Homo sapiens: one gene and its partners. The protein of the gene in region 3 purifies or fractionates together with the protein of the main gene of each other region. This does not show direct contact. Each region holds a gene or a part of one and is shown on either strand. Other genes may lie near its edges.

Region 1 (7,025 bases), on a different chromosome or scaffold from region 3:
AGTAAAATGTAAACAGCAATGGTACCTGAATACTTTAGTATCTACCTATTTTGGTGGTGTTGGGAGATAACAGATAACTAACTTGGCAGTTACTATGTATGATACAAGTGCTAGCTATTGTTATTGTTGCCCTTATTAAATAATTTCTGGGGGAAAAAGACCTAGTAACTACCAGAAGGCCCTTATAGGCAGAGAGGGCAGGGCGGTAAGTCCTGAAAAAAAGATTCTAGGAGCCCCCACGTGCCTGGTTCTCTGCGAGGGCTTCATGTGACCTACAGACTCACAGTAACCTGAAGATGTGCACACTGTTGCCACTGCACAGGACAAGACAGCAAGTGAGGTTTGGCGACGTTCAGTAGCTCGCCCACAGACCTGTGGCCAGGAAGAAAGGTCTGAGAACTCCATTTGTTTCTTGGCCTCTCAATACTTGGTGTTCTTTGCCCTGGTCGGTGGCGCCATCTGCTGGGTATGCAGTGATATTGCGTGGGGGCTTTCTTCCAGTAGTGAAACCGGGTGCCTGTTCATATATGTTTATGGACTGTTTGAATATCTTCTTTTGTGAGGTGCCTGTGCAAGTCTTTTGCCCATTTTTTTTTTTTTGAGACGGAGTCTTGCTCTGTCGCCCAGGCTGGAGTGCAGTGGTGCGATCTCCACTCACTGCAAGCTCTGCCTCCTGGGTTCACGCCATTTCCCTGCCTCAGCCTTCCGAATAGCTGGGACTACAGGCGCCCGCCAGCACGCTCGGCTAATTGTTTTGTATTTTTAGTAGACATGGGGTTTCACTGTATTAGCCAGGATGGTCTCGATCTCCTGACCTCGTGATCCACGTACCTCAGCCTCCCAAAGTGTTTGGATTACAGGCGTGAGCCACCGCGCCTAGCCTGCCCATTTTTAAAATTAGGCTGTGTGGCTTTTTCTTGCTTTTCTTTATATACTCTGACCACAAACCCTTTACTGGAGATAAATATTGCAAATACTTTCTCTGATGGTGGCTTACCTTTTCGTTCCCTTTATACTGGGTCTTTAGATGAGTAGAGGTTCTTAATTTTAATGTAGTTCAATTTATTAATCTTTCCCTTGGATGGTGTTTCTTGTATCAAGCTTAAGAGGTTCTTACCTACCCCAAGGTTATAAGGAAATGCTTTTTACTTCTAACAAAGTTACTGTTTTACTCTTCGCATTCTGACTTTGAGTACATCTGGAACTGATTTCTGTGTAGGATATGAGGTACTGGCCAAAATTAAGTTTTTCTATATGGAAATCTACTTGACCCAGCACCATTTACAGAAAAGGCCCTCACTTCTCTACTGCACTCCAGCGCCACCATTGTCATTAATCAGGTGACTACCCATGTGGGTCTCATTCTGGATACTCCAGTTTCATTGATCTATTTGTCTATCCTTGTATCAAGACCATACTGTCTGATTACTGCAGTTTTACAGTAAATCTTGCCATATAGTAATTAAGTCTTCCAACTTCTTTCCTTCTGTTTTTCAATATTGCCTATTCTTGGCCCTTTTAATCTCCATATACATTCAAAAATCACCTTCTTCATTTCCACAAAAATACGTGCTAAAATTTTCTTAGACTTGCCCTACATCTATGGCTAAATTTGGAGAGAACTGACATATTTACAATAGTGTAACATTCTGATATTTACAGCATTTGTTTCCATGCTCACTTGACAGGAATCTTGCAGATCTATTGTTAGAGTTGCTGCTAGGTAGTCGACATTTTTTTATGCTATTGTAAATGATATTGTTTCAAATATTCATTTTCTAAATGTCTTTTGCTGGTATACAGAAATACTCAGTAGACTGCAAGCTCCAAAGCTCAATGAGGGTTACACCTTCACCTTGCTCGTCTTTCTGTCCCACAATGCCCTGGCACACCGTTTTACACAGTGTTTTAGGAAGAGATGCTCAATATACATTTGCTTGAATGTAATGGGGGGAAAGGCTGAATGGATTAAGATTTAATGTTTTAATGGTGTATCTAATTCCAGGGCTTTGGAAGATTAGGTAATTCAACCACCTCAGAGATATAAACATTTTAATAACTTTTTGTTGTTGTTGTCATTTTCTGAGATGGAGTCTTGCTCTGTCATCAGGCTGGAGTGCAGTGGCGTGATCTTGGCTCACTGCGGCCTCCGCCTCTTAGGTTCAGGCGATTCTCCTACCTCAGATTCCCAGGTAGCTGAGTTTATAGGCGCAGGCCACCATGCCCAGCTAATTTTTGTACTTTTAGTAGAGATGGGGTTTAGCCATGTTGGCCAGGCTGGTCTTGAACTCCAGACCTCAACTGATCTGCCTGCCTCGGCTTCCCAAAGTGCTGGGATTACAGGTGTGAGCCAACTCACCCGGCCCATTTTAATAAAACCTTCTGATTATAAATGTAACATTCACTTTAGAGAAGTAGGAAACTTTGACAACAATGAAAGAGAAACGGCAACCGTGGTGCCTAGAGATGACTGCTGCTGGAGTTGCAATCTATTTCCTCGGGTCTTTTTCTTTGCTATGGATATTTACATAGTTGAGGTCATGTTGCATTATCCATTTCAGTGCCAATCTTATTTCCCACCTCAGCTAAAACAAAAGCACTTTTTTTGGTTATTGACAACTGTTTGCAAATATCTGTAATGGCTACACAGTATGACACTGAAAGGACAAGCACAGTAGCAACTCTTTTGAAGGGCATTAAGATTCCTAATTGTGTGAGTGATAACAATGTTGCTATGACCATCTTTGTATGGAAAGCTGTGTCTTTATCTCAGAAAAGTTTCAAAGGACAGAATAATTACCTTGCTACTTAACGGCAGCAAATTAAAATGTTTCTCTTACAATGATAACCACTGTTAGAATGACAACGTGTTTTCTCAAACTATGTATGTACCTCAGTAAAACAGATGAAGCTTCCTATTACTGCCAGTCTCTGTCTGAGTGCTTCGTTTAATCCCAGAAACAATCGACCCTTTGGGGATGATGCTCTGGGAGCTGAGGCATCTGCCCAGGGCCCTGGTGCAGCACAGGAGGTGCCTAGGTTACAACCAGGCAGACTGAACTCCAGACCCCATGATTACAACCCTTCTAGGACTACAGAAATGCAAACAATGAAGTAAGCAACAATTTTATTGGCCAAGAATTTACATGAGGTTATGAATGCCTAACACACAAAAAATAAATTAAAAAAACACCAAATAGATAAACCAAAAAGGCATGAAAATACTATCAGATCTTATGGAAAGTCCTTATAAAAGGCTCTAACTCCCATTTGTCTGGAAAAGAGCCAGTATTCTCATATCCCCAGCAGGAGCTCTGCAGATGCAGTCTCAATATCCGAGCTTTGCCTGTTAGCTAACTCTCCACCGACAGATGAGCTTCAGAGTTTGAAATGCCTGGAGAAGAGAAACTGTAACCAACACACTCGAGGTGCATCACCAAGGATGACAGACGTAAACAAATCTGGCCTCAATAGCCTCTGCTTTCTCAAGAGTCACTAATTTCACAGGTTAAACCACTACAGTTAATAATGCCCCATATCCTTCAAAAATTAGCAATTCAGTCCATTTCAGAGACAGGAATACTAGGTCCAAGTTCATTTCAGTGACAGCATTTTCTGCACGTGCTATGCCTTGCACCATAATGAGCTTATTAGGATGCTCCTCCTTCAAGATTTTGAAATGTACATTTGCAAGGTGGGGCATGAGAAAGGATAAGCAGAATGATAGGAGGTCTGGGGGTTAGAAATTTACCCCCCAATGTCCACACAGCTCCAAATAACAATGTCTCAGGTGTGGTAGAGGGATGGGAGACACAGAGCCTGTATCTGTCTGGCCTGTTCAGCACTCGGGCAGAGGCCCTGCAGACGTTCCCCAGTGTGTCCCACTCTGTGCCCTGAAAACCACCATCTGGTCAGTGTTCAGCCTTCTGGCCAGCAGGACAAGGAGAAGCTTCACGGAGGGTGGAATCAGGCTAGAGGATTAGAGAAGGTGTTCACAGGCTGTGCTTCCCCTGGTGAATCATCCCCCAAAGATGTCAAACAGGGCCGGCAAGTGAGGCTGGGCCGGGGATGTGTAGGGTATAGGCAGGGCTATACCCTAGCTTTCTTTAGGGCTTTAGCCCTAGAGAAAGTCATGGCTGTGGCACAGGTGCTGTGACTAAACTGGGGAGAACAAGCAGTTGTTGGGAAAAGACTGGCCTTTTCTGAAAACAGAGGTCTGCCTCTCGTTCATCCTGTGACAAATATTTGTTGATTGCTTACTATCTGCCACGTCCTGTGCTGGCATACCAGTACCCAGCTGAACAAGCCATACAGGCTTTCATGATTCTTATGTTCAAATTGGGAGAAAACAACAAAAAAGATATGTAACAAAGGAAGACAATGTCTGATAGCCAAAGGACAGGAACCCCGGCCAGCTTCCTGAGGGTCTAACTCAAGGCCGAGATGAAACTTTAAGAACGCACAGGAGCTAACAGCCGACCCACTCTTTGGCGATGAGAAGTATATAATAATGTGTTAACTGTGTGGGACAGTGTGAACAGGCACAGAAGAAGTTAGAGAAGACAGCAAAACTCTTGTTGGCTGAAGTCACCAGGGCAATTTTTAGGGAAGAACTGGCATTTTCGGGATAGAGCTAGGGATTTGGATGGGCAGGAGGAAAAGAGCAGGGGACCTCAAGTGGGCAGGCGAGGTATGTGTGTGAGTGGACCACCAACAGGAGATACACCTGGATGACAGCAGCTGCTACCGTAACTCACCAGGGGACGGCAGCAGAGCCCCTGCTCCCCGCCCCACCAACACATGTGGAGGCCCACCTCCAGTCTGCCCCTCATCCAATCCATTCTGCCAGCTTCAGCCAGACCACAGCCTTTCTGTAGTTAAAAAACCTTCAGTGGCTCCCTACTGTTCTCACTCATAGTCTGAATTCCTTAAAGTGATTTACAGGGCCCCAGGGGACCTGGCCTCTGGAGACTGCCAAGCATGGCTCTGAGCTTGGGTCCTCACTTCCTCTTCACCCAGTGAACACTCCCCTGCTGAACCACGTGAGTTCTGCCAATGTGCACTGCTCCCCTTGCCCCACTAGGCTTTCTCAAATGCCTTTTCCTCTGCCTGAAACATCCTTCCTTCCACCTGACACCCCGCTGCCTGGTAACAACGACTCACCCCGTTGGTCTCCATTTAAACAGCGTCTGCCTAACAAGGATGTTCCTAACTCCCTGTGCTCCCAAACTAGATGGTGGGAAGGCCTGGAAGAACTTAGACGTGACATAGTGGGAGCCTAGGACCCATAATATGTGGCATGGTGAAGACGATATTTTAAGAAAATCAACATGGCAATATTGTACCCCAAGCTCTAACACTGTCAGTGCCACCTTAGCCAAAACTTGAAAGCACCAAGAGTAGGTGTGCGTCTGTCTACCTGCCATGGATCCATTCTCCGCCTTCTTTGGGCAATAACCCCTGATTCTCCCATGGGGAACCACTCTTTTCTCTCATTCTTTTCCACTAGCTTGAGTGGAGCTAATCCCACTCTTGCTCCAGGGAAGGGAATATGAGTGAGGAATGGCCAATCAGATCCCCCTATACCTTTGGCCAGAGTGACAGTTCAGGGGTGGCATGAGACCTTGCTGGTCCAGGGATACTCAATCTCAATTCTGGACTTCTGCTGGCAATATTGAGAAAAGAAGCTCTCTTTTTCCTCAGGAATGCTAAGCTGATATGATGTAAGCCTGCAGCCTGCCTGAAAATGACACCAACAGGAAAAAGGTAGAGCTGAAAGGTGGAAAAAGGCCGATTTCTGACGGCTCCAAACACCTGGATTCAGCCATGGTTTAGCGGGGACAGACCATTCAGTGACATGAGCTATTCAATCCATTTGAGGCTTAAGGCAATTCTAGCTGGGTTTCTGTCACTGGAACCAAAAATCTTGACCCCCACACAAAGTGGACCAGAATGAAGGCCACAATACAAAAACGACCAATTTCTACCAGCCGCAGACTTGCAGTCCCTGGTAAAGATGATGTTTCAGTAGCAATCAAACGATTCCATCACTCAGGCTTCCGCTTGGTGGTGGACATTTGTCAGTCAATGTCACAGCCTTGCCACTAATCTGGACAATAAACCACCCATGGTGTGTAGCAAATAACCTCTTGACTACTTCAATCTGCCTGAGCTAAATCACTAACTCAGTTCAGCAGACAGAGACCACAGGTATGAAGTTTTCTACCATTTAGCAAAAGTAAAACCCTAACAGGAAAATTCCTTTCCAGTTTGCAAGCTGGGAGTGTTACAAAGAATAATGAAGCTAAAAACAGTTTCCAGCTCTCTGTGCTATCTTCTCAACCTTTCTGTAAATCTCAAACTGTTCTAAAAAAGTAAAGTCTAGGCCGGGTGCAGTGGCTCATGCCTGTAATCCCAGCACTTTGGGAGGTCAAGGAGGGCAGATCACAAGGTCAGGAGATCGAGACCATCCTGGCTAACACGGTGAAACCCCGTCTCTACTAAAAATACAAAAAATTAGCTGGGCGTGGTGGCGGGCGCCTGTAGTCCCAGCTACTCTGGAGGCTGAGGCAGGAGAATGGCGTGAACCCGGGAGGCGGAGCTTGCAGTGAGCCAAGATCGTGCCACTGCACTCCAGCCTGGGCAACAGAGCAAGACTCTTATCTCAAAAAAAAAAAGAAGAGGGTTTCCAGATGCCTTGTGTATTTAAAAAATAATAATAATAAATAAATAATTCTTTTAACTATCTTAAACTTTCCCTCTCCATCCATACTGCTCTAGGTCAAGGTAAGAGTGTATTAAGAACTGTCACTTGTCACTGGTAGGGTGACCAGTTTATACTAGTTTGTCCAGGACTTTCCCAGTTTTAGCACTGAAAGTCCCATATCCTGGGAAACCCCTCAGCCCAGGCAAACCAGGACGGTTGGTCACCCGAAGTGTCAGATAAATCCCAAGCCCCTTCCTACTTCCAGCCTTGTTTCCCACAGCTATCAGCCCCCACCTGGACATGCCACAAAACCCGCAGG
Region 2 (7,025 bases), on a different chromosome or scaffold from region 3:
CCCATCTCAGCCTCCCAAAGTGCTGGGACTATAGGCACGTGCCTCCACAACCAGCTAATTATTTAAATTTTTTTATATGAACAAGGTCTCACCATGTTGCCCAGGCCAGTCTTGAGCTCCTGGACTCAAGCGATCCTCCTGCCTCAGCCTCCCCAAATGCTAGGATTACAGGTGTTAGCCACTGCGCCCAGCCTTCAATTTACACATTCTTAAACAGGTCCTCCACTTTGATCTAGCAGGTCAGCCACACCAACCTATAGAGGAAAACGAGGGAAGGAGAGCGCCTCTACTCCGCAAGACAACACTGCCCTTGTGAGCAGTGGCTGACAAACAAGGATATAAGAACGTGGCGGTGGAAAAATGTAGACTTTTTTTTTTTTACTACAACCTGCCTTCATTTTAAGTCAGTGAGATGCCATCAGTGAGATGGCAGTAAAATGTTTTCCTTTTGTCAATAAAAACAGCCATTTACTGCCTTCTCGAAGGCTCCAATCTGCTATTTTCCTGGTTTCTCATTTTGAGGGCAATAGGAAATGCAACAAACTCCAGGACTGCTGCTCCCAGTCAATGCCCTTTTAATTGAAATAAGGCTGCCCCACCAGCTAAGCCAGCTTCCAACACAGCCCGGCCCTGCCTTCCTGGATTTCCTGGCAAAGCCCAGGCCTTCTCACACGCACTCAGGGTGATCTGAGCAGACCACAGGCTGTTCATCCCAATGGGTTAAAAAGTACTTGGAGACTTAGTTGCAGTAAGGTCTTAGGTTTTGTTGGGGTTTTTTTTGTGGGAAAGTGAAGGCATCTGCACCTGAAATGAAATACCAGAAAGCCTCCACAGCAAGCAAACAACAGGCACTTAGGTAAATTCAGCAGGAAGTAAGAAAACCACAGGTACTCAGGAGGATTCACCTCCGTCCCTCCCAGGGCAGAACTGGCCTTCAGCAAAACTGCCTTACAAAGTCATGAATGGCTTCACGTGCCAAGCTTCAACCTTTCAGATGATTTCCATACTTCTCCATCATCTTTGGCCTGGAATCATCCCCACAATGGCAGGAAAGAAAAGAGCTACCCGCCATAGTGGTCCTCTCTGCCAACTAAGAGTTGCAGATGATTCTGGTCAGTACTCCTCAGTAGCAATGACAGCAACAATGACACAGTAAACATCTGCATTTCATAATCCTGGTACAACTGGCTCACCGAAGACTGCCAGGATACGCTACTCTCTGCTCAAGGGGAAAATGTATCTTCCGAACAATAAATCCTTCACTAAGCAGATGCAGTGCTTGCCCTTGGGGTGACAGCATACAGTGGAGGATACACCCAGAATTTACAGTGGGGCAAAAAGTGTCCCATCAGGTGCTGGGAGACAGGCCTCCCGAAATCTGCAGAGCCTTTACATCCTTGAGAGGAAAAGGCAAGGCTAGAGTTCGGCCAGGTGAGCCGTGCCGGCTGGTCAGCACGGGAGAGCACCACTGGGGCCAAGGACACAGCAGGCAGGCGGGAGGGAGTGGCACATGGAGTGTGGCATGTTGTCACGGGGTAGCTGTTGACCACTCAGGAGCTTCACACTGTACCACATGCCTATCCTATAGGGACTTGCTACAGGATTTCAGGTAGGGGAGCTCATCAGTCCAAAGTGCACACTAGATGGCCGGGCGCAGTGGCTCATGCCTGTAATCCCAGCACATTGGGAGGCCAAGACCGGTGGATCGCCTGAGGTCGGGAGTTCGAGACCAGCCTGGTTAACATGGTGAAACCCCGTCTCTACTAAAAATACAAAAATTAGCTGGGTGTGGTGGTGCGGGCCTGTAATCCCAGCTACTCAGGAGGCTGAGGCAGTAGAATCACTTGAACCTGGGAGCCCGGAGGTTGCAATGAGCCAAGATCGCACCACTGCACTCCAGCCTGGGTGACAGAGTAAGACTCTTTCTCCAAAAAAAAAAAAAGTGCATACTGAAAAGCTCCCCAGTGCTCGGTGGAGCCACAGGACACAATAGCAGGAGAGAGGCTATGTCACTGCTGTAAGGGGGAGGAGCAGAGGAACACAGCTGAAGCAGCATTTCCATTCCATTCGGGAGGGAAAGGGCCTGGTATCCAACTGGAGAAGGAAGTGTCCAAAGGACACCCACATTCCTGACATAAGAACCAGGGGAACAAAAGTGTGGCCCACTTAAGAGGGAATAGAAAAGAAAAAAAATAGGCAAAAGTGAGGAAACAGGGAAGACCATCAGAGGCTGTAGTGAAATGCTCGTGGTGGTCTGATATGAATGACAAGTCCTGGGTTCAAAAGGGTTCTGGGATGGATATGAATGACAGGTCCTGGACTCAAAAGGGTTCTGGGCTGGAGATACTTGGAAGTTTAGGTGGAGACAGGAGGCAATGCAGTTACCAGTGGATGAGATGAGAACAAGGAAAGTGAAAAGAGAGCCCAGGACAGAACTCCAGCCATGCTATGATCTGAATGTTTATGTCCCCTCAAAATTCTTATGTTGAAACCTAATCCCCAGTATGATGGCTCTGGGAGGTGATTAGGCCATGAGGGTGGAGCCCTCACAAATGGGATTAGTGCCCTTATAAAAAAGACGCCAGAAAAAAAATCCCTCGCCCCTTCCAACATGTGAAGACAGTGAAAAGGTGCTTCTGTGAACCAGAGTGTGGGCCCTCCCCAGACAGTTAATCTGGTAAGCACCTTGAACTTGGACTTCCAGCCTCCAGAACTGTGAGCAGTATTTCTGTTGTGTGTAAGCCACTCAGGGTATGGGATTTTGTTACAGCAGCCTGAATGGACTATGTCAGGAGACCACCGTTAAAAGCCAGACTGAGGGAAGGGAGACAGAGAAGCGGCACCTGTGGGGGTAGGAAGAGACTCATAAGAGGGTGGCGTTGGAAGACAAGGAAGAAGAATCAACCACACCACATGTCAGGGGGTGCCACACAACTATGTTCTTACTGAAAGGAAACCACTGTACACAGTTCTTTAAGGGTCAATCGCTCTTTAGGAATGACTCAAAAATGTATAAAATCCACTCCTAAATCCAAAAAGAACCGAGAAATACAGAAGTGTGCAGAGAACCCACAGAGGGATCACGTCCATAGAGGGAGTAGAGTCTACTACGCTGCCAGACACTGCAGAGTCACGGCACAGAAGGAGTTTAAAGGACAGTGCCAAGTGAAAACCGCGCAACAGCACGACAAAATCGAGTAGGCTCAACGATTTCACACACACCCTTGACGTGTTTCTCCAGATGTTCTCCGTAGTTCTACAGCCAGCCAACAGAAGATTACCTGAATGGGATTCTTCTGTGCTTAATGTTTTCGAATGGCCATCTTAATGCTTATGTTGAACTCAAGGTAGCCATTCTGCCTGGACTCAATGCCCTTCATGGAGCTCCCCAAATGATTCCTAAGGGTTCTGGCTGGAGAGGTACATGCGGGGCTATGAGCGCTGCAGTGACGACTCAGCCAAAAAGATGATGAGGGGAAGAACTCCTGGTGTTAAAAGAAATGCTCTAAAGCAGCTTACCAACACAGAATGCAAGCCACATCTGTAATTTTAAATTTTCAAGTAGCCACATTAAGAATTAAAAAGAGTCGGGCATGGTGGCTCACACCTGTAATCCTAACACTTTGGGAGGCTGAGGCGGGCGGATCATCTGAGGTCAGGAGTTTGAGACCAGCCTGGCCAACATGGTGGTGAAACCCCGTCTCCAGTTAAAATACAAAAATTAGACGGGCATGGTGGCACATGCTTGTAATTCCAGCTACTTGGGAGGCTGAGGCAAGAGAATCGCTTGAACCCAGGAGACGGAGGTTGCAGTGAGCCGAGATCGCGCCGCTGCACTCCAGCCTGGGTGATGAGAGCGAAACTCCGCCTCAAAAAAAAAAAAAAAGAATAAAAAGGAAACAGGCAGGTGAAATTTAAGAACACATTTTACTTAATCTAATATATCCAAAATGTTATATTTCAACATGTTATCAACATAGTAATTATTAATGAAATGGTGTACAGAGTTTTTGCTATACTATGTCTTGGAAATCTAGTGTATATTTTACACCTAAAGCAGTCCCAATTCGGACAAGCCACAGTTCAAGTACTCAATAAGCCACGTGGCTTACTCAATAAGCGGCTACCACACTGGACAATGCAGGTCTAAATGGAATCTACGCAAACCAAGAGGAAGTTCTGATTCAACTAGAAAATCTCCAAGAAATATGCCCATGCCTGAGTTTTCAGGACAAGGGGAAGGGAAGTCAATTTCCCGGAAAGCAGTTACCAATTTTATATAAGTACTCCATTGTGAAATCACAAGGAACATCAGCAGGGCTGGGATGGTCAAGGAGAAGGCTGCAGGGCGTGGCCTTGGGGAAGCAGGTGACCAACCAACAGGTGATATCAAGGCTCTGTCTGTCACCAGCAGAGCCCACCTTCTAACCATCGTTAACATTTTCACGGTGCTTTTCCTTCCTCCTTTTCATCTTCCAACAGCCCTATGAGGAAGGCAGGCTTTACCCCATTCCACATATGAAGAAACCAAGGCCCAGGCAATTTAAATAACTTGCTCATTTCTAGTCGCCACTCTTAGACTTGGACCCAGAATGCAGGCCTCACCCCTACCCCAGGGGTCTTCAATCAGTAGCTCATCAGAAACAGCCAAAAACCTATGGCAAGACCAAAGTAACTACCTACCTAGTTCGTGAACAACTCTCCACTTAATGACGTTTCATATGGCACCTCCCTTCTCTAAAGAGCTTATGAGTTTTCAAAACATCCTCATGCCCATATATGATCACCACTAAGGGATGTACTGGACTGCCCTAGAAATATCCTAAAAAAGCCCAACTACAGCCCAGAAGGGCTGGCCCATCCAAGGTCATTCCTGGCCCTCATCACCACATTCAACATCTCTTTTCTACTCCATGCTGCCTCCCTTGATAACACCTTTTACTTTTCAGATAAAATTTTTAAATGTCAAGGTTATTTAAAAAATATATTTTGTTGTTTTCTCAAACCAGTGGGTAACTTAATGATAGGGCAGTTTTAATCAACCACACAAGTGACTTTAGCATAAGATCTCCCTCCAACTCCAGCCAACCTTAAAGTGGCCTGACTGCATTCTCAGAGCTCTACAAGGTACTGGCTGCAGCCAGTGGGACCCCTGCCCTCACTAATCAATGTTCACATACGCACTGATCCAATTCTGCAGAATAGAAAAGTGCGTGGCAGATCAGGGTACACAGATCCTTTTCCTGCCTCAGGACTGGTTGAACGGGAACTGAAGGGCTACCTGGGAGGTCTGTCCTTTATTTACTTTACACACTTCACCCCTGTGGGGTCTCGCCTTTTATTTATTTTAGGCAAGTCTAACAATTTGGGGTTTCTTGGTTCTTCATAACTAGAGAACATGGGTTCCTTACATCTTTAACTGGGCCAACACTTAAATAATAGCTATTTATAGCTAACACACTGACTTCAAACCAGTGAGGAAAAGCTTCCTAGCCAATATACATAACTATTGCTGAATGCAATAAGGTGAAGGCTCAGAGTCACATTTTAATACCAAACAGCCTGGTTCTTAAGGAACTGATCACATGAAGGCAAGAGCTCAGTTATTCTCAAGGGAAAATAAGCATATTGCAGATAAATATACAAGAAGCTTCAAAATACCACCATCTGACCCCCAGAACAGTAAATACTTTCCAAAGTTCCTTCACTCGTGAAATCTTAAGATTTTCACAACTGTTCAGTAAACAGGTATAAAAGAACGAAAACAGAATCCCAGAGGTTTAAAAATGCACCCTGCTACACAGCTACCTGCAAGTACAGCCTGAACCTGGGACTTGCAGAAATGGGTCCAGAGGTCTCCCACCTGGGCCAGGTGCTCTGTCATAACCAGGACACCTGAGTATCATAACATCATCACTAGGACCTAAGGACCACTTTCACAGGATATGAGTTAGTGCTTTACCTTCCCTTTATTTAACCATATTCCAAGTCCATTCAAACTAAGGAAGTCCTGCAGAACAAAAAATATCACTTCGCACAAAGGATGAAAGAGCTGACACATAAGCAGCCCCCAGCTGCCAAGGCTCAGGGACTTCCAAGCACACCAGGTCACCTTTCTCATCAGGAATTCAAAGCTGAAGGTCAGCAAGTGTCTAGCCCAGGAGTGTGCTGGATTATTTCTAACATGTGATTTGAACAGTCTTGACAGCAGCCATGATGGCCTCCAGCCACGCCACAGTCCCGCAATCCAAGAGTCCCAGATGCAAAGGAAAGCCAACCAAGACCCCCACTGGGAACCACTTCCGCACAGCAGGCATGCCACGTCCTAAATGCAACACGACTGCACCCTGCCCAGCGGAACTCGTGCACTCAGAAGAGAAGGGAGGTCAAGGAGGAGGAGAGGAGAGAGAGAGGCAGAGAGAAAGCAGCAGTCAGCATCATTCTTACTTTTCTGGCAGCGGTTTGTGGTCCAGCAGCGGTAGTTGTACTCATTGTTGATGGTGGTCTTCTCACACATCGGCTTCTCCTCCATGGTCCCTGGACACAGGTCCCCACATTCCTTTGGGGGCTTATTCCCCACAATGTAGTTATTGGACACCGCATCCAGGATCAGGGACCAGTCCACAGTGGAGAGGTAACAGAGGTCAGCATTTTTCTCAATCCTGATGGCCCCCCGAGTAATGTTCCTCAGGTTGTAAAGCCCAATATCCTTGAGATTGGTCATCTCGAAGATGACCAGGGCGTAGTTGTAGAAGAGTTTCCAGCCGCGGATGACCGTGAGGTTGGGGAAGAGGTCTCCGAGGCTCTCGAGGCCAGCCACTCGGAACAGCAGCAAGTACTCGGTAATGACCGTGAGCTTGGGGAAGCGGTAGCTGCGGTAGTCCTCGGCCTTGGAGATGAGCAGGATGTGGAGGTAGCCCTCGATCACCGTGCAGTTCTCCAGGCGCTTCAGCTGCTGATAGTCGTTGCGGATGTCGATGCCTGGCCCGCAGACTGAAGGGAGACAAGAGGGTAAACGTCTCAGT
Region 3 (7,025 bases):
ATATTAAAATAATCACACCTATTATCTCTCCCCTTCTCTTACTCTGCCAGTCACTCTAGGGATCAAGGTATACCCCAGGTAACCTGAAATGGAACTGAAGTCCCCAGGGGGGTGTGGGTGAGACACGGCACAGCCTGTACTTAGAGATAAAATTTCTGATTTGCATGGTGAAGCTTAGAACCCAGCTATACAGCTCCAAGGAAACTTGGGGAAGGGGGAGTTGCCTTCAAAATGAATACTCTAAATCCAGAGTTTTATGATAAGGCCCTGGAAGGGCTAGGAGGAAATTTTTCCAGAGGGCACAGGCATCGATGCTGGACTGTCATATCCTTCACAGGAAGAGAGGAAGCTCCTCATTTCAGTTGGGGTTACAGAGGTTTGGGGCAGATATCGTAAGTTCAGCCGAGGACTCCCTTGGCTCTTCCTATATTAAAGCCAAAGGTTGTGCTGAAAAGGAAAAAATATAAAACACACCCCCATCCCTGTCCCACCCTATCCAGAACCCCCACAATAGGAACATCAAAAGAAAAGTTTCAAGTTTGATTTTTTTTTCTTTTTTCCTTTCTTAAAAAAAAAAAAAGGAAGTAAATAAATTAAATTGCCAACAATGTGGCTGAGATAGCCATGATCAGGCCATTCTTAAAAAAAAGAGGGGGGGGGGCAGTAGGTGGAGTTTGTGAAATATAAACAAACAATGGCCAAAGAAAATTATCAAAGTAACTAACTACAGTCACAGGGCTAGAGAGGGGTCTATGGAACAATTATGGCCTGTGCCACAAGAGGCAGTGCCAACCATATTTTAGCAAAAGCTAGGAGTAGCTTCTTGCTAAACACATCAACCCCCAACAGATTAACCCCTACCCTAAACCCTGGCATTCCCTAATTATGAAAACTTGTAGGAAAGAAGAGCTCATCTGGAAATTTTCAGTATCCCAACCTGCATACTGGTAGACCCAGTGGGTGCCTACACCTTTAAGGTGGGCTGAACAGGGATACTGCTTGGCACAGAGGTCCAGTCTTTCCCTAAGGGCCATCAGTGATGGCCAATTAACGGCCTCACTACTTATTTCTAGAGATTTGGCTCCACCCTTACCATTTCTTCAGGATGTCTGCTGCTTAGAGTCAACAGGCCTGACTGCTCTGATTCCCTGGTTTTGGAGGAGAGGGACGATTAGAGATTCCTTCCTCTGTCCTGATCCTCCAGGGAAATTGAATCTCTTTGTGCTTTCTGAAAATAACTGGAACCAGGGACCCTAAGCAGGAAAATGGATGGAGGTGGGGGCTTTCCCACCCAGACTGATAATTTATAGACATTTTAGGGGAATATGGCAAAGGGAGGAAATCTGGGTTTCCCACCTGAAAGGCTGAGCAAACTACCCCAAGGCCCTTCAGTGCCAGAAGGGCAGGGAGATGTGTGGCTCAGGTATAAGCCACAGTATTAAGAATGGTGGGTAGGACTCAGGTCCCAGCTGCTGGAGTGATGGGATTTTCTGATTTCCATCTCTTCCTGATAGCCAGTCGAGTTCTCTTATATCTCTTCCACGCCATGCGCAAATATCATGACAAGGCCTGGCTCTTGCACCATGTCATCCCCCATGTGCTGGTTCTCACAGGCCATCACGACAACAGCCTGCTTGCCAGGGATGCGCTTGGCCACGTAGTTCTCATAGTAGCGTCGGTTCATCTGTCTAGTCTCTAGTGTGGCCAGACCCTGGGGCCAGCTACGCTCGTGGGCATTTTCAATCAGCTCGTTGACAATAGAAGCAGGACAGCCACTCTCCACCAGGGAGCGCTTGATTACAGCCTGGAGCACAGCATCAGGAGTCGAGATCATCCCTCCCCAGCGGGTCACTCTTGCTGGCTGAAGGGAGTTCACCCACCTGTGTGGAGGTGGTTAAAGATGGTCATTCCAGCTCATCTCCTTTCTCTGTATTGGCTTTTTCTGCTAATAGAAATAACTACCCACTCTGCACTCAGCTTACCTATTCTTCCTTCTTTCCTTCCATCATTGGCTCAGAAACCCCAAATCTTTCCCCACTTGGTCCCAACTGAGTCACCACATGTTACTCACCAGATTAAATTCCACAAGTCTGCACTCTGTCTCTGTTACTTTTCTTTGAAATTCCAATACTTAGCACATATAGCGCCTAACACAGTTAGTGCTCTATGTTTAGTGAATAAAACAATTATTCCTCTATCCTATGTCCCACTCAGCACTATTTGCCCTGTATATATTGATTCACACTTACAGTTTACTCTATGAACTGTATAGGACTCCAGAACTGAAAGAGATCTTAGACTTCACTTGTATACTTCGCTTGTTTTTGCTGCATTTTAGAGATCACTTTCCTGGACTTGCACTCTGCCTCCTCTTCTCTGGGTTGTAAGCTACCTGAAGACAGGACGATATCTTCTATTTCTTTTTGGCCCTCCTAGCACTCCACAGCCTTTAATACAGGGCTTTGTACATGGGTACTCACCTAATTCTGGATAAAGTGCATCCTTGGGCAGGCTTTCCCTCCATCCACCCAAACACATAAGACATCCTGTAGTGGAGCTAAGGGTTATCCTCTTCTCCTCTGCCCCTGTCCTTAATGCCAATATCTGAGAAGCAGTGACCCCCAGCCCAGCTCTCCAATGCCCTCCTTCTGCTACTCTCCTGCTCTTCCTCCTTTCAGGCCTTGTTGTCAGGACATGAAATCACTCCACGTCCTGAGTGACACTCACTCTAGGATCTCGTTGTATTCAATTGTCTCCTCCAGGTTCTGAAGGTTGGGGTTGACACTGCGGATTGCACGCATGTATGCCTTTAGCAGCTGGATGTCTCGCTTCTGTTGTGGGGAAGAAGAACAGGAATAATGGTTAAGGCAGACAGCAGAAAAAAGACAAAAGTTTATCCAAGAATGAGGGCAACTGAGAGATCTGAAGAACAACCAGTTTGTAAGCTTCAGGAAGACAGGGATAAGACTGTCTCACTCACAGCTGTCTCCTTAGTACTTACAAATGTGCCTTCACAGAGGAGGCATGTGATAACTGGTAGGTGAATTAATGCTATGAATGGGATGAAGAAAAGTCAAGGAGAGCTCCAATCTGATTCCCTGCTAAGCCACAGGCAGAATATCCACTCATCTAGGCTCACAAGTGTAAGCACTGGTCTGTGTGTTCACAACTGGTTTTTATTACCCACAGGCAGGCAGTTATCTGCATATGAGGGATATGTTCTCCCCCGTGTCTTGGGGCCTACCTGCTCCGCCAGCTGGTGTTTGTGTTCAGCTGACGTCTTCTCCAGCTCTGCGATGCGTGTCTGCTGCTGCTGTACCACTGAGCGCAGGTGCTTAATGCAGTTATGGTTGGGCAGCTCATCTTTGGGCATCTCCAGGCTGCAGACCAGGGTGGGGAAAGAGCAGAACAGAGGTGATCCCTGGGACATGTATGCAAATGGCCTATTCTGTGGCAGATAACTGCTAAGTAGATTTTGTCCTACCCAAAATTTCTAACATTCATTTCAGGCCTCCCTCTTGTTTATTCCCTTCACTTTCTTCGTCCAAGCTTCCTACTTGCCCCTTTGCTGTCTATTTTCCTTAAATTTCTTTCCCCAATCAAGACACAGTGTTTTATCTATTTTTTAAATTTATTTTATTTTGTATTTTTATTATTTTTTTTGACACGGAGTTTCGCTCTTGTTGCCCAAACTGGAGTGCGATGGCATGATCTCAGCTCAGCGCAACCTCTGCCTCCCAGGTTCAAGCGATTCTCCTGCCTCAGCCTCCCGAGTAGCTGGGATTACAGGTGCGCGCCACCATGGCCGGCTAACTTTTTGTATTTTTAGTAGAAATGGGGTTTCTCCATGTTAGCCAGGCTGGTCTCAAACTCCTGGCCTCACGTGATCTGCCCCCCTCGGCCTTCCAAAGTGTTGGGATTACAGGCGTGAGCCACCGCGCCTGGCCTTTTTTTTTTTTTTTCGAGACCAAGTTTCACTCTTGTCACCCAGGCTGGAGTGCAATGGCACGGTCTCAGCTCACTGCAACCTCCGCCTCATGGGTTCAAGTAATTCTTGTGCCTCAGCCTCCCGAGTAGCTGGGATTACAGGTGCCCACCACCACACCTGGCTAATTTTTATATTTTTAGTAGAGATGGGGTTTCACCATGTTGGCCACGCTGGTCTTGAACTCCTGACCTCAGGTGATCCGCCCGCCTCGTCCTCCCAAAGTGCTGGGATTACAGGCGTGAGCCACCGCACGGGGCCTATTTATTTATTTTGACACACTGTTTTTATCTACTGCACAGCTCTCCTTTTCCTCCTACAGATTCTGCCTGTGCACTTATTCCTTCAGAGAAGCCCTATATTCACAGCCCCAGCTATCAACATTCTTTTTATTTTTTAGTTAGGGGGAACAGAGTCTCATTCTGTCACCCAGGCTGGAGTGCAATGGCGCGATCTCAGCTCACTACAACCTCTACCTCTGGTTTTAAGTGATTCTCATGCCTCAGCCTCCTGAGTAGCTGGGATTACAGGCGAGCACCACCACACTTGGCTAATTTTTTTTTTTTTTTTTTGAGACGGAGTCTCGCTCTGTTGCCCAGGCTGGAGTGCAGTGGCTCAATCTCTGCTCACTGCAAGCTCCCCGTCCCAGGTTCATGCCGTTCTCCTGCCTCAGCCTCCCAAGTAGCTGGGACTACAGGTGCCTGCCACCACGCCTGGCTAGTTTTTTGTATTTTTAGTAGAGACGGGGTTTCAATGTGTTAGCCAGGATGGTCTCAATCTCCTGACCTCGTGATCCACCCGCCTTGGCCTCCCAAAGTGCTGGGATTACAGGCGTGAGCCACCGCGCCCGGCCCCACACCTGGCTAATTTTTGTATTTTTAGTAGAGACAAGGTTTTGCCATGTTGGCCAGGTTGGTCTTGAACTCCTGGCCTGAAGTGACTTGCCCACTTCGGCCTCCCAAAGTGCTAGGATTACAGGTGTGAGCTAACATGCCCTTCAGCTATCAACATTTAGTCGAATATTTCATAACCCACAGAAATAAAAAAATAGGGCAAGAGGAAATATGAGAAGGCTGGCAATTATAGCAGTCAACCTGACAAACGGAAAGTAGTATTGGACTGAAAGGGAAGAATAGAGTCAATCAAGCTTTAATGTTATTACACAAATTTACTAAATTGCTGTGCCCCTTCTTTTGTTAAAGCAAGAGCAAAATGATTATAGTTGGAAAAGCAGCAAGAAAGTAAGATCTTAGAGCAGGAAGCCAAGGAGGCTAAGAATACTCCTTGCCAACATGCCAAAGAGACCTCCTCAGCTAGTGAGGAGGGCAGCCAGAGACAGGGGCATAAATGAGATGGCCCTTATCCATGTGGGGCAGAAGGGAACAAATCTCACCCACAGCCCTGTTCACAGGTCACAGGCCGCTTCGGGTTGTGCTCACAGTCGCTGAGGTGAGACATGAGGTTGTCAAGCCGGACAACGGCACTACAGCCGAACACAGCGTTGTCACAGGCAATCTGCAGCTTTGACAACATGTTCCGCATGATCCGAGGTACTGGGCGCAGATGGGCGACCGTCACAACACTACGGTCCACTGGACATGTCTGTTGCTGAGAGAACCACTGGGTGATGCAGGCGTTGCAGAAAGCATGTTCACAATGAGGTGCCTAGAAGAGAGAACAAGGCAAAAGGGGCGCAAGGGAATTAGCAGGACCTAAGAGCCTGGATATGATATAACTCTACAAAGCCAATCAAGCCTTTGAGCAGCCTCTACGACAAGAGGTCCACTGGGTCACAGCAAAGTATAGATCTACTACGGGCAAGGCATTGTAGGGGACAGGCTTAAGATACGTTTCCTGCTGGGCACGGTGGCTCATGCCTGTAATCCCAGCACTTTGGGAGGCTAAGGCAGGCACACTGCTTGACCTCAGGAGTTTGAGACCATCCCAGACAACATGACAAAACCCCATCTCTACAAAAATTACAAAAATTAGCCGGGCATAGGCCGGGCGCAGTGGCTCACGCCTGTAATCTCAGCACTTTGGGAGGCCGAGGCAGGCGGATCATGAGGTCAGGAGTTCAAGACCAGCCTGACCGACATGGTGAAACCCTGTCTCTACTAAAAATAAAAAAATTAGCCAGGGGTGGTGGCGCATGCCTGTAATCACAGCTACTCAGGAGGCTAAGGCAGGAGAATAGCTTGAACCCAGGAGGTGGAGGTTGCAGTGAGCCAAGATCACACCACTGCACTCTAGCCTGGGCAATACATCTCGAAAAAAAAAAGCTGGGCCTGGTGGCACGTGCCTATAGTCCCAGCTAGCCAGGAGGCTGAGGTGGGAGGATGGAGGATGGCTTGAGCCCATAAGGCGGAGGTTGCAGTGAACCAAGACTGCACCACTGCACTCCAGCCTGGGTGACAGAGCCAGAACCTGTTTCAAAATAAATAAATAAATATATATATATATATTCCCTGTGCTCAAGATTAAAAATGAGTTGTGAAACAAGACAAACAAGTAAAAAGTTATATAACAATAAGAGATACAAATGATATTCTAGGACAATAGGACAGATGACACAAGGCAGCCAATTATTAATTGCCATCTGGATTGCATACACAATAATTGCCAAAAATGTCCAGAGGAGGGTGAGGTCTTTTCAGGCTAGCTCAATCACGGCAGGTATTTATGAAGAGGACAGAATTTGATATGGGTCTTGAAGGATAATTCAGATGATAGATTTAGAGAGGAGGAGGACATATTTACTGGCAAAAATTCAATGTAAGAAAGCTAGGCCAGGCATGGTGGATGGCGCCTGTAATCCCAGCACTTTGGGAGGCTGAGGTGGGCGGATAATGAGGTCAGGAGATTGAGACCATCCTGGCTAACATAGCGAAACCCTGTCTCTACTAAAAATACAAAAAATTAGCCGGGCGTGGTGGCGGGTGCCTGTAGTCTCAGCTATTTAGGAGGCTGAGGCAGAAGAATGGCGTGAACCTGGGAGGCAGAGCTTGCAGTGAGCCAAGATCATGCCACTGCACTCCAG
Region 4 (6,960 bases), on a different chromosome or scaffold from region 3:
CCAGCCTGCCTTGGGTGATGAAGAGGATCTATTCTGCCCTCACAGAATCCACAAGAGAACAGGCTGGGTGCACATGGAAACATGTCCCGTGCCTCTGACAAGAGCAGTGATCAGAGGTTTACTACATACCAGGTGCTCTAATGGTGTTTGCAGGAATCAGCTCATTTAACCGTTGAGGTTGGAAAGCGTGTTACTGTCCCATTTTTACAAATGAGAAAGCAAAGGTCCAGGGCCTTTAAGTAACTTGCCAAAGATCACGCCGTCAGGAAGCGACAGACCCCAGATCCAATAGCAGCACGAAGCCTGAGCCACTGAATGAATGGTGGAAATTACGGTTCCATCTTGGCCCAAACGTGGGATGTCCCCAGCTGGACCCCGGCCCCTGTGAGATCCCGGGCTCAACCCCCAGCCTCCTGGGACTGTTTTCCCCTTTAAACAGTCATGGGTGCCTCAAACAGACTTTGGGTCAGAGCCTGATGACTTCCTGGGATGGACAGGGGCCCATGGAGATGGGTGCCTAGGAGCCCTGAAGCAAAGCTCTGCAACCCATCCCCCTTCACCAGAGTGAGTAGCAGGAACCGGGAGGCAGGGGTGAGGAACTCAGAGTTTCGGTTAAGGCCAATTCAGGCAGCACTCACTGGAAGCAGCTCAGAGCACCAAGAGGGCAGGAGCAAAAGACCCTTGTCCTGGCTCGTCACCTCCCTCCTCCTCCTCACCTTCCACTTGCCCTCTCCTTACCACCGGCTTCTGAAGACTCAAAGAGCCGACTGAACTCCCAGTTGCCAACACCGAACCCGGCCCTTGGGAAGACATCCTCCCATTTAACGGATGAGGAGACTGAGGCCTGGCTTGGGGAAAGGTGTCTCTTGATTCAGACAGACCTTGTCCTTCCATACTACAAGCATTTACAGAACTCAGGCTGGAGAGCAGATCCCGGGGAAAATGGGGAGACAGAGACATAGTTGAGCAAGACACCAACACTCTAATGAGGGAGAAGCCCATTTGGTCAGAAGAGCCACAAGGAAAAGTTAAAACCTAAGTGCTGAGGGCAGACATAAACCAGCAGCATGCTGTGAGCTCCACAGCCAGGGGCACTCTGGGTGTTGTGCCAGGCCATCATCCACTGACAAGAGTCGGCAACATTTCAGCCTCCTCCAAAACCGTGCCCAGCCAGCGGCAGGAGAGCTCAGGAAGCTTCCAGCCTCCCAGGGAGAGGTCAACACGTGCAAGCTGGGCTGTCCCTAAAGCTGCCATGGCACCTGGAAGCGTGCAGATGGAGCCCGGCTGGCACCCAGTAGGTGCTCATGTCCACTGAAAAAGCAAAGGCAAAGCCTGCTGTCCGGGGGAAGCCCTAGGGTCCCCACATGGCCACAGGGAAGTCCTGTTCCAGGTGGGCAGTTGCCCTCCTCTCACTGCGAACATGGAAAGGCACTGGCCACGAGGGGCCAATGGGGCTGTTGTGTGCACAAGGTCTGCCCCAGGGAGGGCAAAAGACACTGTCCTGGGATTTAGGAAGCTGCCTCTGAACCGGTTCTCCCACGACATCATCCTCCAGGCTGTGGGACCGTTAGGCTGGGCGGAAGTGGACTCCAGCCAAGGGGATGTTCCCAGATGTCATGCTTTCAAACTGGACCCGCCCAGAAAGGCAGGCAGAGACAGGCCTGCGCCCGGGAAAGCCCTGGGTAACGACTCAGGATGGCATTCAGGCCTTTCCTGGGCAGGGGATGGCCACAGGTTTCCCTGGCGGCGGTGTCTATCAATCCCGTCCCAAGAAGGAGAGCCTGGGCGTGGAGGTTCTGGGCAGCTGAAGGCAGAGATCCATCCCTTCCCTGGCTACCCACCCCCACCTCAGCAACGCCTCCCAGAACGCTCCAAAGCTTTCTCAAGTCCCCGCTCCCAGGTTAGGGCCCTGTAGCCAGTTCCAAGGTCTTTTTCAGGAGCGCGCTTCCCAAATAAAGTTGAGAGGGGGCGGGGGGAATGAGGGAGCCCCAGATCCACCTCAGAGTGGTCCCCAGAGGGCTTGGGCCCCTTTCTCCGGATTGTTCAGTGGGAAGGAGGGCCGGCTGGTGCCTCAGGCCCGCGGGACTGTGACAGCCGGCGACCCCTGCGACCTCCCTTTCTACCCGGGCGCCCCCACCTTGAGATAGTCGTTCTCCGAGCGCAGCTCCTCCAGCTCCCGCACCAAGCCGCTGGGCCCGCAGTCCAGCATCTCCTCGGTGAGGTCGGAGAAGGCAAGCGAGGCGCTGAGCGGCAAGCGGCTGCTGCCCACCGACGACGCGGCCACCGACGGCTCGTCCGGGGAGGCGGGCGGCCGCGGGGGCTGCTGCGCGGAGGGCGCGGGCTGGGCCGGCTGCCCCGTACGGACCCCCGCCGGGCCCCCGGCCGCGGACTCGGCGTCGCTGCTCAGCGCCAGCTCCAGGCCCAGCAGGCGCGCCTCCTCCGACGCGCAGTCCGACACCTCCGAGCTGCTATCCGTGAGGCTGGGGGGCGGCGGTGGCGGTCGCGGCCCCGCACCCGAGCGCGGACGGCCCTTGGCACGGACCCCGGTGCGGACCCCGGCCACCCGCACACCCGCACCGCGCGCCCCGGGAGCCACTGCGCGCCCCTTCTTGTCCGGCCGTGAGGAGAACGCGGCGCTGCAGGCGACTGCTGAGCCCGGGCCTGGGCCGCGGCGGCCCTTAGCCAGCGACCAGCCGGCCACGTCTTTGGGCCGGGCCGGCGACGGCGCGCGGTGGCTCTTTTTCCTCTCCGGGGCAGGCGCGGGTGCAGGCGCGGGCTGGGGACCGCAGCCCCGGACCGGGGGCTCGGCCGCCGGCGCCTCCATCGCGGCCTCCCTCGGCCTCAGCGAGCTGCGCGCATGGCCCAGGCCCGCCCGGCCTCGACGTCCCTGGGGAGGGACCCGGCGCGGCTCCGGCCGCTGGGGCTGCGGCTGCTCTCGGCCCACCTCGGCCCCGACACCGCGTCCCCGTCCCAAGCCCCGCCGCGCGGTCTCTCCGCTGCTCTGGGCTCGGAGAGTGCGGCCCGACCGCCTCCAGGCGCCCCGGCTCCGGCTGCGGCTCCGCCCGGCGCCCGCCCCCTCGGCCTCGCCGCGCCCCCGGAGCGCGCCCGGGCCCCCGCCGCCCGCACGCCGATCGCTCCCTCGGGCTCCGAGTCCGGCTGCGGCCCGGGCCCCGGCTCCGCCCGGCGCAGCCCGCCCCCCGCGCAGCCCCGCCAGCTCCCCGCCCCGCCGCCTCGGCTCGGGGGCGCGCGGTTCCGCGAACAAAAGGCGGACGCGGCGGGAGCGGCAGGGAGGGACGCAGGCAGGGAGCGAGGGAGGGATCTGCGAGGCAACAGCGACCCCTTCGAGGGTCAGGCTGGCGCGGGCAGCCGCGGCCCGGGCTCCCTCCTCCTCCGCTCCGCCGCCTCCTCCCCTGCCCGCTCGGGGAAGGCACCCGGCGGAGGCGCCCCTGCGCCCGGCGTCCGGGCAGGGCCTGCGAGAGCGGCGGGAGCCGGGACTCCCGGGCCGAGGCCGGGCGGACCTCAGTTCGCAGGAACCCGCATCCATGCACGCCCAGCGCCTCGCCCCTCGCCCCGTGCCGAGCGTGCGCGAACTCCGCCCCCTTAGCCGGCATCGCCGGAGCCGCGATCCCATCGCACAGATGCGTAAACTGAAGCCTGGGGTGCACGCGCCAAGCTCACGGTCTAGGCGGCGCCGATGGGACCCAAAGCTCACACCTCCCGGGCGCGCTCGGGCTCCCCCTGCCTCGGCTTCCCTCTCCTGGCATAGGGACCGTGAAGCCCTGTGTGCATGCCTGGCTCGCGCACCTTGACCGGCGGATATTTCTCCCCATGCGCCCCCGACCCGGGTTTCAGGCTCTGTACGGCTAAAATGGAAGCGACCCGTAGCTAGGCGCGGTGGCTCATGCCTGTAATCCCAGCACTTTGGGAGGCCGAGGCGGGTGGATCACGAGGTCAGGAGTTCGAGACCAGCCTGACCAACATGATGAAACCCCGTCTCTACTAAAAATACACAAATTAGCCGGGCGTGGTAGCGCGTGCCTGTAATCCCAGCTACTCGGGAGGCTGAGGCAGGAGAATCGCTTGAACCCGGGAGGCGGAGGTTGCAGTGAGCCGAGGTCGCGCCACTGCACTCCAGTCTGGGTGGCAGAGCTAGACTCCATCTCAAAAAAATAAACAAATAAATAAAAACAAAAATAAAATGGAGGGGACCTATTACGAGATGTCAGCCTAGCGGATGCTTTGGAAGGCGGTTTTGGCCCCCGTGGGGGCTGGCATGGGCTGGGACGGTTGCCCTGACCCCACACGTCCCCACCAGGAGCAGTGCAGGAGGACTTGAGCTCTGATGGGCGTGTTTTCTTTCCTCCCGGGCGTCTGGGCGTCTCCTTGGCTCCTGGCCGTGTTGATTTTCCCATGTCTCTCACACCTTCCCCAGCCCCCACACCGCCTGGCCGCTACGCCCCCATCCCTGAGCCACCGCAGGGCAGAGCTGGATTGAGTGCTTTGCCCCACAGATGTACCCTCGTCCTTAGGGTGCCCCACACCCCTTGCCACCAGAAGGGCAGGGCTGTTTTTGCCCCTTTACAACCTCTTTCTCCTCCTGTTCTCTCCTCCCCCTCCCATTTATCCCCTGCTCTTTCTTCCTCCTTCTTCTCCCATCTTTCCCCTTCCTTTCCCCCCTCCTTTTCCAAGTCTTCCTTTTCCTCCTCTTTCCCCTCTTCTTCCTCCTGCCCATTTTCTCCTTCTTCTTCCTCCCCCAATTCCCTTCCTTCACCTCTGCACCTGCCTGTGACACAGCAGGCACCAGGTCCACTTCTTTGTCTCTGTCCCACCTCCCCCACACGCTGTGAATACACTCCTGGGGCATCCCCTCTCTCCAGAGGCATGACTTCATCTGGATCCAGGTGAGTGAGTGCTCCTCCACCCCAACGCTAGGTGCCCTCCATACGGCCAAGTGAGGAGCAGGCACTCAGCAGGCTCTTGGCAAACACTTCCGCAGGGGCATCCCCACCCCCTCCTAGCAAGACACCAGCTCCCCTCACGGCCCACTGACTGTCCACAAACCCTGTTTGCACAGGCGCCAGGTACACTGAGGGACGCAGTGGTGGGCATGTCAGTGCCTGAACTCATGGAGCACACAGTGTGTGTTGGGGGGGACCACAAAAGACTCAGCACAAACAGGGTGGCATGGCATGTGGGCAGGAGTGCTGGAGAAGGATGTGGGAGCCGCAGGCTAGTGACCCAGGGCAGGCCTTCCCACATTCCGGGCCTCAGAGTCCCCACCTGCTCTGGTCTAATGTAACAGATGACAGGGTCCATCCAGCTCAGATGCCCCTGGCTCTAGTAGGCTGCATCTAGTCTGGCACAGAAAGATGCTGTGAAGCTCTTGGAAAGTGTGTCCTCTCTCTGTGCTTCAGTTTCTGCCCCTGTGCAGAACATAGGTTTGGAGGTGTTGGGTGGTGTGAATGCAGGGACATAGCAGACCAGGCTGGCTCAGCCACTCCTGACACACCCTTGGTCACATCAGTGGTCCTGAGATTAGAGTGGCCTGCATCTCTCTTCTAGGGCAGGGATCTGAGTCCTGGCTCTACCACCTATCCTCTCTGGGCCCAACACTCATGGCTGGCCAGGGAGGGGCCTGTGGGTCCCACCTGCTCTGAGGTGCTTTGGATTTGGGGAGTCAAGAATCTACATTGTAGACCCAGGGAAGCCTTGAGAACAACAGGGCTCTGGTGGGGAGGGACTAGGTGGGGCTGACGTAGGGGCTGTGGACTCAGGGTCAGTTCAGACCAGGGATACCACAAAGGAGATAAGACTTGTTGAGAGTCCAGAACTGGCTACATTGTAGACGGGGTGACCGTCCTTGCGCCGGCACATCCTGCAGCTGTGTGATGCGTGGCCTCTTCCTGTGTGCCGGGCTCTGTGCTCCACATTTCAGTAAAGGATCTCCAAAAGGTGAAGATACTTCTTGTGACTGATTAATATTTTCCAAAGGGTATATCTCATCCCAATTGCTCTTCTTACAATGTGACACTGATGCTCCTCCAATTGAGCGGCACATGTGTGCGGCACGTGTGTGGGGGCACTGTGTGCCCCCACCTTGAATCTCAGCAGATCTTGTGACTGTCTCAACCAACAGAGTATGGCAGAAGTGTTCATCTGTGACTTCCAAGGTTAGGTCATAAAAAGCAACATGGATTCCACCCAGCTTGCTTCTCTCTCTCTTTCTCTCTCTCTGTCTCTCTGGCCACTCACCCACCATGATAGGAGGAAGCCCAGGCCTCATGGGGAGACCGCATGAAGGTGATCTAGCCAACAACTCCAGCTCTGGTCCCCACTAACCACCAGACATGTGAGAGAGTGAGCCTGCAGATGATTCAGCCCCCAGACTTGGAGCTGCCCCAGTGGACAAGTGGAGCAGAAATGAGCTGTCTCACCAACCCTGCCCAAACTGCAAAATAAGTATTGTTGTTTTCGGCCACTAAGTTTTGGGGTCATTTGTTACATAACACTGGGTAGCTGGAATGTGTGACCAAGGTCACACAGCTTGGATGTGGCAGGGCTGGGATTGACTTGAACCCAGAGCTGCCCAATTCCAGGGCCTGTTGTGGTACCCTATTGGGCTGCGAAGTGCCCAGCACAGACACACAGTGTGTGCTGCAGAAAGCGCTACTCAAAAGAGACTGAAGCATTACCTTGTAAGAATTATATAACATAGGAAGTGAAGATGCTGATTACCCAAGTAGAAAAACGGTTTCATTTCTCCCATTCAAGCTGCTAAATTGACCAACGTGATGAAAACTGAATGGAGACTCACTCCTGGAAAGCTTCCAAGAGGAGGTGTGTTTTTTCCTTTTAAACTAAAGTTGTTTTGTTTTGTTTTTTCATTATACAGATTAAAAAACAAGCAACTGGCTATGGGAAAATTAGAGGAATCGGTCGGGAAACCTCATTAAATAGGGG

What was found.
Region 1: the proteins of RNF41 (region 3) and CLEC16A purify together in Homo sapiens (affinity purification with mass spectrometry; 3 studies listed by BioGRID and IntAct, with this or other methods). This does not show direct contact.
Region 2: the proteins of RNF41 (region 3) and IGF1R purify together in Homo sapiens (affinity purification with mass spectrometry; 2 studies listed by BioGRID and IntAct, with this or other methods). This does not show direct contact.
Region 4: the proteins of RNF41 (region 3) and MTCL2 purify together in Homo sapiens (affinity purification with mass spectrometry; 3 studies listed by BioGRID and IntAct, with this or other methods). This does not show direct contact.

Annotation. Positions count from the first base shown.
Region 1 is NC_000016.10:10,947,552-10,954,576, reverse strand, and holds part of CLEC16A (protein CLEC16A), read right to left. Parts: intron 1-7,025. UniProt on the Homo sapiens protein: Regulator of mitophagy through the upstream regulation of the RNF41/NRDP1-PRKN pathway. Mitophagy is a selective form of autophagy necessary for mitochondrial quality control.
Region 2 is NC_000015.10:98,707,530-98,714,554, reverse strand, and holds part of IGF1R (insulin-like growth factor 1 receptor isoform 1 precursor), read right to left. Parts: intron 6,994-7,025; coding exon 6,448-6,993; intron 1-6,447. UniProt on the Homo sapiens protein: Receptor tyrosine kinase which mediates actions of insulin-like growth factor 1 (IGF1). Binds IGF1 with high affinity and IGF2 and insulin (INS) with a lower affinity. The activated IGF1R is involved in cell growth and survival control.
Region 3 is NC_000012.12:56,204,919-56,211,943, forward strand, and holds part of RNF41 (E3 ubiquitin-protein ligase NRDP1), read right to left. Parts: intron 5,651-7,025; coding exon 5,379-5,650; intron 3,381-5,378; coding exon 3,245-3,380; intron 2,832-3,244; coding exon 2,728-2,831; intron 2,393-2,727; coding exon of another isoform or gene 2,389-2,392; exon of another isoform or gene 2,250-2,388; intron 1,881-2,249; coding exon 1,529-1,880; 3' UTR 1-1,528. UniProt on the Homo sapiens protein: Acts as E3 ubiquitin-protein ligase and regulates the degradation of target proteins. Polyubiquitinates MYD88. Negatively regulates MYD88-dependent production of pro-inflammatory cytokines.
Region 4 is NC_000020.11:36,860,521-36,867,480, forward strand, and holds the start of MTCL2 (microtubule cross-linking factor 2), read right to left. Parts: upstream 3,019-6,960; 5' UTR 2,825-3,018; coding exon 2,138-2,824; intron 1-2,137. UniProt on the Homo sapiens protein: Microtubule-associated factor that enables integration of the centrosomal and Golgi-associated microtubules on the Golgi membrane, supporting directional migration. Preferentially acts on the perinuclear microtubules accumulated around the Golgi.